2 separate regions of the Homo sapiens genome follow, and region 1 is linked to region 2. Evidence: fine-mapped expression QTL. A gene starts in region 2. The other region holds a variant in brackets. All regions are shown on one strand. Distances are from middle to middle.

Region 1 (4,401 bases), 320 kb after region 2:
CACAGAAACCCTATATATATATATCTCAGAGCTGAGAAAGGTATGTGTATATGTACATATCTGTCTCAGCTCCGTCCACCAAGAGGGACTAGAAGTGACACCCAGTGGTTATGAGCACAGCTAGCACCAAGATGCTGATTTCCAAACCCTCCACTAAAAATGGAATTGAATTGACAGTCCAGAAATAAGCCCACACATCTACAGTCAACTGATTTTCAACAAGGGTGCCAAGACTATGGGAGAGAATAGTCTTCAACAACTGGCGAATGGACAAGTGGATATCCACGTGCAAAATAATGAAGTTGGACTGAGATCCCACACGATAAATGAATATTAACTCCAAACGTATTGAAGACTTAAATTCAAGAGCTTAAACAATAAAAACTTTATAAGAAAACAGTAGTAAATCTTTACGATCTTGGTTTTTACAATGGATTCTTAGATATGACACCAAAGTACAAGCAACAAATAAAAAATAGATAAATTGGAATTTATGGAAGTTAGAAAATTTTGTGCATCCAAAGACATGATCAAAAAGTGAAAACTCAGGACAATGGCAGAAAATATTTGCAAATCCTATGTATAAGAGTCTAGTATGCAAAATATATAAAGAACACTGAAAACAACAAAAACCAAACAGCACAATTCAAAAATGGGCAAAGGACCTAAATAGAAATTTTCCAAAGAAGACCTACAAATTGCGAAGAAGCACATGAAAAGATGCTTGACGTTACTAGTCACCAGAGAAATAAAAATCATGAGATATGACTTTATACTAACCAGAATAAAAATGTAAGAGAATAACAAGTGTTGGTGAGGCTGTGGAGAAATTGGAACTCTTGTACACTACAGGTAGGAATATAAAATGGTGTAGACAATTTGGAAAACTGGCTGATGGCTCCTCCAAAACTTAAACACAGAATTACCATAAGACCTAGCAAGGGCATTTCTAGGTGTATATCCCACAGAACTGAAGACAGAAATTTAAACAAAAACTAGACAACCCAAATGTCTATCAACCAATGAATGGGTAAACAAAATGCAGTCTGTTCTTCAATGGAATATTATTTGGCCATAAAAAGGAATGAGGGGTAGGAGGGAGCAGGGATAGAGGGTTGATGGCTAAGAGGGATGAGGTTTCTTTTTGAGGTGATGAAAATATTCTAAGTTGACTGCAGTGATGGTTGTACAGCTCTATGACTATACTAAAAGTCATTAAATTGTTCACTTTAAATGGGTGAATTGTGTATAAATTATGTCTCCATAAAGCTGTTTATTTTTTTAAAAGACACACAAAAGAAGAAACTTTCCTGCAGCTCCAGCTGACCTTGCAGGCTGGCCTCTTCCGCTCTGACCTGTGCTCCCTAAGCTCCCTGCGAAGGAGATAAAATGAGCTCCTGGTCTGCAACAGCTATTGGTTATTGTAATGTCTGCTTTTGTTTAAAAAGAAAAAAAGACCCAACTCCTTATACAGTTTGAATTGTATATATTTGGGGATCTCTGAGTTTCCTGTATCTGGATGTCTAAATCTCTTACTAGACTTAGGAAGTTTTCAGCAAGATGACTGGATGATCATGTTTCAGCCTCTGTGAGACAAACATTACAGCAGCAGATGGCACAAGACCCAGGAGCCTGAGGATGAACATCACTGGAATCCACACACTCATCAGATCTGTGCTTCCCAGGCAGCAGGCACCAGTTCCCCCTTTGCCTTCCACCATGATTGTAAGCCTCCTGAGGCCTTCATCAGATGCAGATGCTGATGCCATGTTTTCTGTACAGCCTGCAGAACTGTGAGCCATTTAAACCTCTTTATAAATTACCCACCCTCAGGTATTCCTTTATAGCAATGCAAAAATGGACTAATACACAATTTAGGAGCAAGGTGTAGGTAAGACAAGGAAAGGACTGGAAAAGGGTGAAGTGACTGCTGTAAGGACTGGTAACATCAATCACATGGCTGTGAAAGGAGGGCAACAGTCCTGACTGGTGGAGAGAGCACACTTTAAACTCTGTGAAGGCAGAGGAGGGGC[C/T]GCTAACATCTCAGCTACTTGTCTGCAGAGCCTCTGGACAATTTAGCCCAGACTGCCACCACCACTTTCAACTCAATGGCTGGCCAACAAATCTTAATCTAAGGACTCTCAGAAACTTCCCAGGAACTGCTGACTCAAGTAGTTAACAGCCTCCATTCAGAACGATAGAATGAGATTAACTTTCTGGAAACTAACAAAACTCTTTTGTACAAGAGCTTAATAGAATTGGACCCTGATCCCAACTCAACACAATGGCACTGCTGAGGTCACTACAACTTCTTACATGAAAAGAAGCTACCTATACTAGCTTGCCACACACAAAGTGGTCTATTGTCTCTAATGTACATGGTAATGGGACAATAACACATTACCCAGGACTTCCTGCTGGTCAGTCAAGGCAGGATATGTGCAACTGTCAGCATCCCTTACTGCACCTGGGTTAATGAAATATTTAACTGGCTTGGCTCCAGTTGGGGAGCCTAGCTGCAGTGTGTATCCTCCAAGTGGGCCTAATTAGAGACTCATTCTTGTATATGTTGCCCAAAACAATCAGAATGTATTTGGTTAAGGCCCCTATAAGCACAGTTAATTAGAGTAATTTGATGGGGTGGCCTATGCTCCTGAGAATTCTTAGCTAGCTATTTGAAAAGTGAGGGATGGAGCTGTAGAGAGTGGATCTGCCATGGTGCCCTTGTGACCTGGCATGCATATATCTATGCAAGCTAGGCTTGAATTGCAACTTATCTGAGTCTTGGCAGGATGTATCATGATCCTCCCAGAACACAAGAGGATGGGAGGGTGGTGAGGTGCTGTTTCAAGGCTATCTCTAACCTCCTAATCTCTCCTGGGAGGCTGCCACTGAGACAGACAGTTTCTCATCTGAGTACTATTGAGGTCTGAGGCTATCTGCTCTGCCCCACTCAGGGTATAGCTACAGAATATAAAACTGCTAGCTGCAGTCTAAAAGGGGCTCCTCAGCAAGGGAGTGTCCCATAACTGGTGCAGCAAACATGCAGGCCTTGTTTCAGAAGTCCTGTTTGGTGCAGGGAACAAGGACATGGGGAGCTGGCACCTTTGGCCCATCTTCCTCTTGCTGTCTATGTAGGTAATAAACTGAATCTTAAAAGGACATGTCATTACTTTAGAAGCCAAATCAATCACTCTTGGGCTTGGCCTTTTTTTGACAATGTGGTAGTTATGTACAAGAGTGTCTTTGTTTTTGAGAATTGTACACTGGAGTGTTTAGGACTGATGGAACATGTCTGCAACTTGGTCTCAAATGGTTAAGAAAAAGCCATATGATAATGGTGGTACACACATGCACGCATGCATGCTGCAGAAATGTGAAGTGTTACCAATTGAACAATCTGGATGAAGTGAACATGGGAGTTCTTTGTACTATTCCTCCAACTTTTTGGTAAGTTTATAACAAGTTACTTTTTAAAATCTACTGAGCTTAAGGCCAGGGGGAAGTCTTATTTTTCACTTTGAACTCTTCTGTAAATTGTGTTTTGAATTTCTACAATGAGTATGTATTACTTTCTTAATACAAAATTAAAGTGTCCGATTTTTAAAATCACAAAAGTAATATAATAAAGGAAACTTGAAAAATGTGAAGAGAAACCTATAATTTCCTCAAAATAACTCATTTTTGGTAGTCCTTTTGGTCTTCTCTTTCTTATTTCTGTTATTCATTTCTAGTATTAATGCATCTTATAGTTTTGCATGTGGATTTCTTCATTTAACATAATTCTAAAACTTTAATATGTTGTATAGGTTTTATAATTTTAGTGCCTGTAGTCCCAGCTACATGATTCACTAAACAACAACAGCAAACCCTGGGGAGAGGGACATCTGATTTCCAGAGCCACCACATTATAACATCAAAATGTCCAGTTTTAAACAAAAAAGTATGAGGCATGCAAGGAAACAAAGTACGGCCCACTGACAGGAAAAAAAAGTTTATAAAAACTGTCCCAGACAAAGCCCAGGTCTTGGACTTACTAGACAATTTAAATCAACAGTTGTAAATATGCTCAAAGAACAAAAGGAAACCATGAATAAACAATTAAATCAGGAAAATGATATCTCGCCAAATAGAGATAACAAAGATAAAATTTTTAAAAGGAACAAAATAGAAATTCAGGAGCTAAAAACTATAATAACTGAAATGAATAATTCATGAGAGAGACTTAACAGCAGATTTGAGCAGGCAGAAGAAAGAATCAGTAAACTTGAAGATAGGTCAATTATCAGAGACCCAAGTATCAAAAAGAAAAAAGAATGAAGAAAAACAAACAGATCCTCAGAGACCTGTGGGACACCATCAAGCTTAACAATGCACCCACAATGGGAGTTCTAGCTAAAG
Region 2 (4,401 bases):
GGGGAGATAGGCTACATTCAAACCTATTGCAAAATTACCTTTAGACAATATTCTTTCAGTATTAAATGTGGATTATAATTGGAAGTGAAACTTTGTTTTGAATCGGTAGCCTTTTTCCATAAAGTGACACCTTTAAATGAAACTTTCAGCAAAATAATTTTATAATTTCTATTGAAGCCAACAACTTCCTCACAGGTTTTCCTGCTTCAAATCTTGCCATTATAGGAAAACTTTCTGACTGCTACTACTGGGCAGGCAGCTCCTAGGGAGATACTGGGTCATTACCCTGGATGTCCCAGTGTGGCTCAAGGTCCTTGTCAAGCATTATCTCATGTAAATGTTGCCACAACCTTCCAAACTTGCCAGTTTCATAAAGGAGAGAAACCTAAGGCACAGAGAGCTTCAGCAGCTTGCCCAAAACCATGCAGCAAGTGAAAGGCAGAGCTTGCTGCTGCAGCAAAGACTGGTAAGAGCCCCAAAGGGAAGGTGAACCTAAAGAAATAAGAATCCGCAGGTTGTGGAGTCAAGCCACACTTCATCGTGTGAAGAGTCTCCCTCAGATGCTCACTTTGGCACAGCTGGATACTATTTCATTCAGGGATTCAGTAAGTTTTCTTATTTGATCTTCTTCAAATCCGTTAGTAAAAACCAAACAAATTAGCTAACTGGTAGACTATCTCCAATATTACAGTATAAACTCACAGCCCCACAAAACGTGCTGTTTACTCAGAGGTTGTGCCCACAACATAACACTGGTGGTGACAGGGCCTCTTTTCAAAAAGGCACAGTCTTTCAAGCATGCCCATAAGGGAACACATAGGTTTACATAAGAACCCCGACACAAAATACATCATACTGTAGGATTCTATTTATATAAAATTCCAGAAAAGGCAAATCTATAGTGACAGATCAGTGGTTGCCATGTTCCAGGTGGAGGAAGGTGACTGACTGCCAAGGGTCACAGGGGAACTTCCTGGAACCTTGAAAATGTTTATTCTTTGTCATGATTGTGGTTGTCGTTACATGACTATATACATCTGTCAAATGTCATCAAACTACACAATTAAATTTCATGAATTCTACTGTATGCTAAGTGTACCTCAATAAGACTTCCAGAAATAAATAGATTTTTTAAAAATAGTTGAGGCTCAGCCAAGTGAGTACTGATTGTGGGGAAGAAAAAAATCACAAGTCCAAGTTTATGGGGAATCAGGTAACAGAACTTGTAATTTTGTCTCATCATCTGTATAACAATAGCATCTTTCATGCCTGTATTATTTCTGCACTCATTTAAACTCAGGCTGTTGCAATCCTGATTTGAAATGACAGGCAGGTGTGAATGCCTCACTCGAGTGGAATATAAAGGGTAAGGCAATGCGGTGCAGCAGACACAAAATCTAGCCTCAGTTCTGATGCCCATTACTTGTTTCCTTGAGTTAATGCCACTTAGCCCAAAGAGTCTACAGCTCTACTGCTTGCCTTATGTTGCAGGGACCTTCAGTTTTTTCATCTGTGAAATCGGAGGGTTACTGTAAATCCCAAATGTCCATCTCTTCAGTCATTTATTAATTTAGCAAACATTTCTGAGGACCCACTTATTGGGCACTTAAAGAAGTGAGTATGACACGGCCCTGCCCTAGAAGACCTTGCAGTCTAGGAAGGAGGTTCATGCTGTGACTTCTGAGCTTCTGCCTGGCTCTCTGGTTCTCTCTGGACATTTTCCCCTTGGGACCTGGCCAGCATGCTGTGAGGAAGACCAAGCCACAGGGAGAGGCTGCTGGTTGATTTTCTGGCTCATGGCTCATGGCTCCAAATGAGTAAGTGAGCCGTGTCCCCACCTGACAGACCCTGAGTGACGACCACCTTGCTGGGCCCAATCAAAACGAAATATGAGAGACAAGAAAATGCTCAGTGTTGTAAACCAGCGAGTTTGGGAGAGATTTGCCAGTAACAGATAAGCACAACCTACCCTTAGGGCATCTTTGAGGACGGAGGTTAATAGCTATTTACCAGCCATCCATCCCTGGAATCTGGATTCCTTGTTCCACCCGCAAATATACACTGGCCACCCTCTTTGCACCATAGCACAAGGGGACCTGCCTAAATGAAGAGGAACAGTGAGTGAGCTCTTTAGAACCAGAAGCTGGCTTTTACAATCATTTCTGCTGACCCAAACACAAGCACTTCAACAACAACCAGGCAGACCTACTCCTTGATGTGTTCCTTAAAGACTTTCTGTTACTCTGACTTCCGTCCACGAGGAAGTTTTCCTTGCCCTTAATAAGCGCACTGTCCAGGCCGCTGCCTCTCCTGATTTCCAACTGGAAGGACTGCTGGGGGCAAGGATCCACTGCACCAGCAGCCCGGTACGAACCCGGCCGCGCGCTGGCCTTGTCCTCACCCCGCCGGCTATCGCGGTCTCCGACCTATGGCCAGGACCCGCAAGGACAGGCCCCCCGGGGACAGGGACCGGGACAGGGAAAGTCCCGAGATGAATGGCCGAGCCCCGGCCCAGCGCCCTTGGGACTAGCGGGGCCCGCTCACCTCTGGCCGACTACGCTTCTGCAGCAAATGCTCCAGGTAGAGGTCGGAGAGCGCCGTGTGCATGCTGCCCCCACTCTCGCCCTCGCTCGCCTTGAGGGTCATCTCGCAGAAGCTGGAACACTGGAACGCAAGACAGGGCAGCGCTGGGAATGACAGGGCCCGGGGCCTGCGGGGCTGCGGAGAAGGCGGGAGACGCGGTGCGGCTGGGCCAGTCACCGCCCCGCAGGCGGTGCGCCGGGAGGGCGCGGACGGAGCTCCGCCTACGGCCCGCCCACTCCTGCCCTCGCTCCGCCCATGGAAGTCTCCCACGCCCCGGACTCCGCGGCTCCCTGCGCTCCGAGAAGCGGCCCTTAAAGGGCCTGAGGAAGTCGTAGCTGTAGGTGGCCGCGTGAGATGAATGCCAGAAAGATAAGAAAGGGGAGGGGGCCCCCAGCTTCTGGGTGGTTGAGCACACGGCCCACGCCCCGTTGGGCCTGAGCCGCCCGGGTGCCCTGGCCAAATTCGTGGGGATTGCAGGGAGGCAACAAGGGAAATCAGAATCGGCCGGCTTAGTGGAGTTCAAAAGATGTAGGTGAACTCTAGACTCTTCCCATAAATTGATGCGGGCGCAGCATTACCCTTTGAGATCTGGACATTGCGAAAATGCCTTTAAGGCTGCTGTGCTGCTGCACCCTGTCATTTAATTGTTGTGTGCTGTTTGATGATGAAACATCTTATTGCCTTCAAAACCAAACTGTTTTTACTTAGGGCAGATCTCCTGCTGTAAATGCCACAAAATTTTTCCGGCTCAGCGAAAGCAAAGGCAGCAAACATTCCTTAGTAACCCTAGAGGAGGATTCCTTAGCATCCTAACGCATTGGAGACATTCAAACACCAGTCACAGCGATGGAAGGCTTTCTGAACAAAACAAACATTTAATGGGCTTGTACGGCTCTTGGTCCCCTACCCCAAGCTAGTAGCCTCACAGTATTAGAAGCAGTTCATCACTACATGTAATCTTATTCTGACCTTCCTCAAAGCTTCCTGGGAAGGAGGAGCTCATAGCCAAGAGGAGAAAATCCAAGGGCAACAGTTTAGAGCTGCATTGCCCAGTTTTCTCTACCAAGAGGCCGAACTCATGTGAATGACGGTTCCCTTCCTCAAGATCACTCTAAACGAACGGGGGGGGAGGGGGGGGTGGGGTGGGGGGGGAGAGATTGAAATTAAGACTGTGATATTGAGGCATGGATAGATTAATTGAGCAATGGCATAGAATAGAGAACCCCGAAACGCAACCATGCAAGTATAGAAATGTGGTATATGATAGAAGTGGCATGTTAGGTAAGTAAACAGGGACATTTTATTAACTGACGCTGGAAAATGGTTATTTATATTGGAAAAGATGAAATTGGAATCCTCATTCATGTGATATGGAAAATAATAATAATCTATTCCAGATGGATTAAGGAATTAAATGTCAAAAACATACCCTTAAAGCTCTTGACAGGAAACATAGGCAAGGAACTTTTAGACTTTGGGATACAGATTTCTAAACAATGTAGACAAACCATTGACCATAGAATGGAATAGTGGTAACTTTGACTTTAAGAATTTTAATTTATGAAGACACCATAAAGAGCAAAAAACACAGCTGTGCATTGGGAGAAAATATTTTCAATACAGATAAGTGGCAAGGAATTCCAATTGCGAATATATAAAGGACTACAAATTATTAAGAAAAACACAATCCAGTAAAGAAGTGGGCAAAACACATGAATAGGCATTTCACCAACAGAGAGACGCATATGGCCAATAAACATACATATAAAGAGATGTTCGACATCATTAGTGATCAGGAAAATGCAAAGCAAAACTACA

Evidence for each region. PIP is the estimated chance that this variant, and not a neighbour inherited with it, causes the effect.
Region 1: its variant is the best candidate, but not a certain one, in a credible set for the expression of MPP1 in blood mononuclear cells (TOPMed, PIP 0.50).

Annotation. Positions count from the first base shown.
Region 1 is chrX:155,125,322-155,129,722 of GRCh38, forward strand. No RefSeq gene overlaps it. Among named protein-coding and RNA genes, the nearest start is that of BRCC3, 56 kb to the left of the region's middle. The variant C/T (reference allele first, on the strand shown) is at 2,034.
Region 2 is chrX:154,802,728-154,807,128 of GRCh38, forward strand. It overlaps MPP1 (MAGUK p55 scaffold protein 1), which reads right to left and starts at 2,758. Exons shown (of 12, transcript NM_002436.4): 1 at 2,545-2,758. The coding sequence starts at 2,646. RefSeq lists a silencer at 2,723-2,882.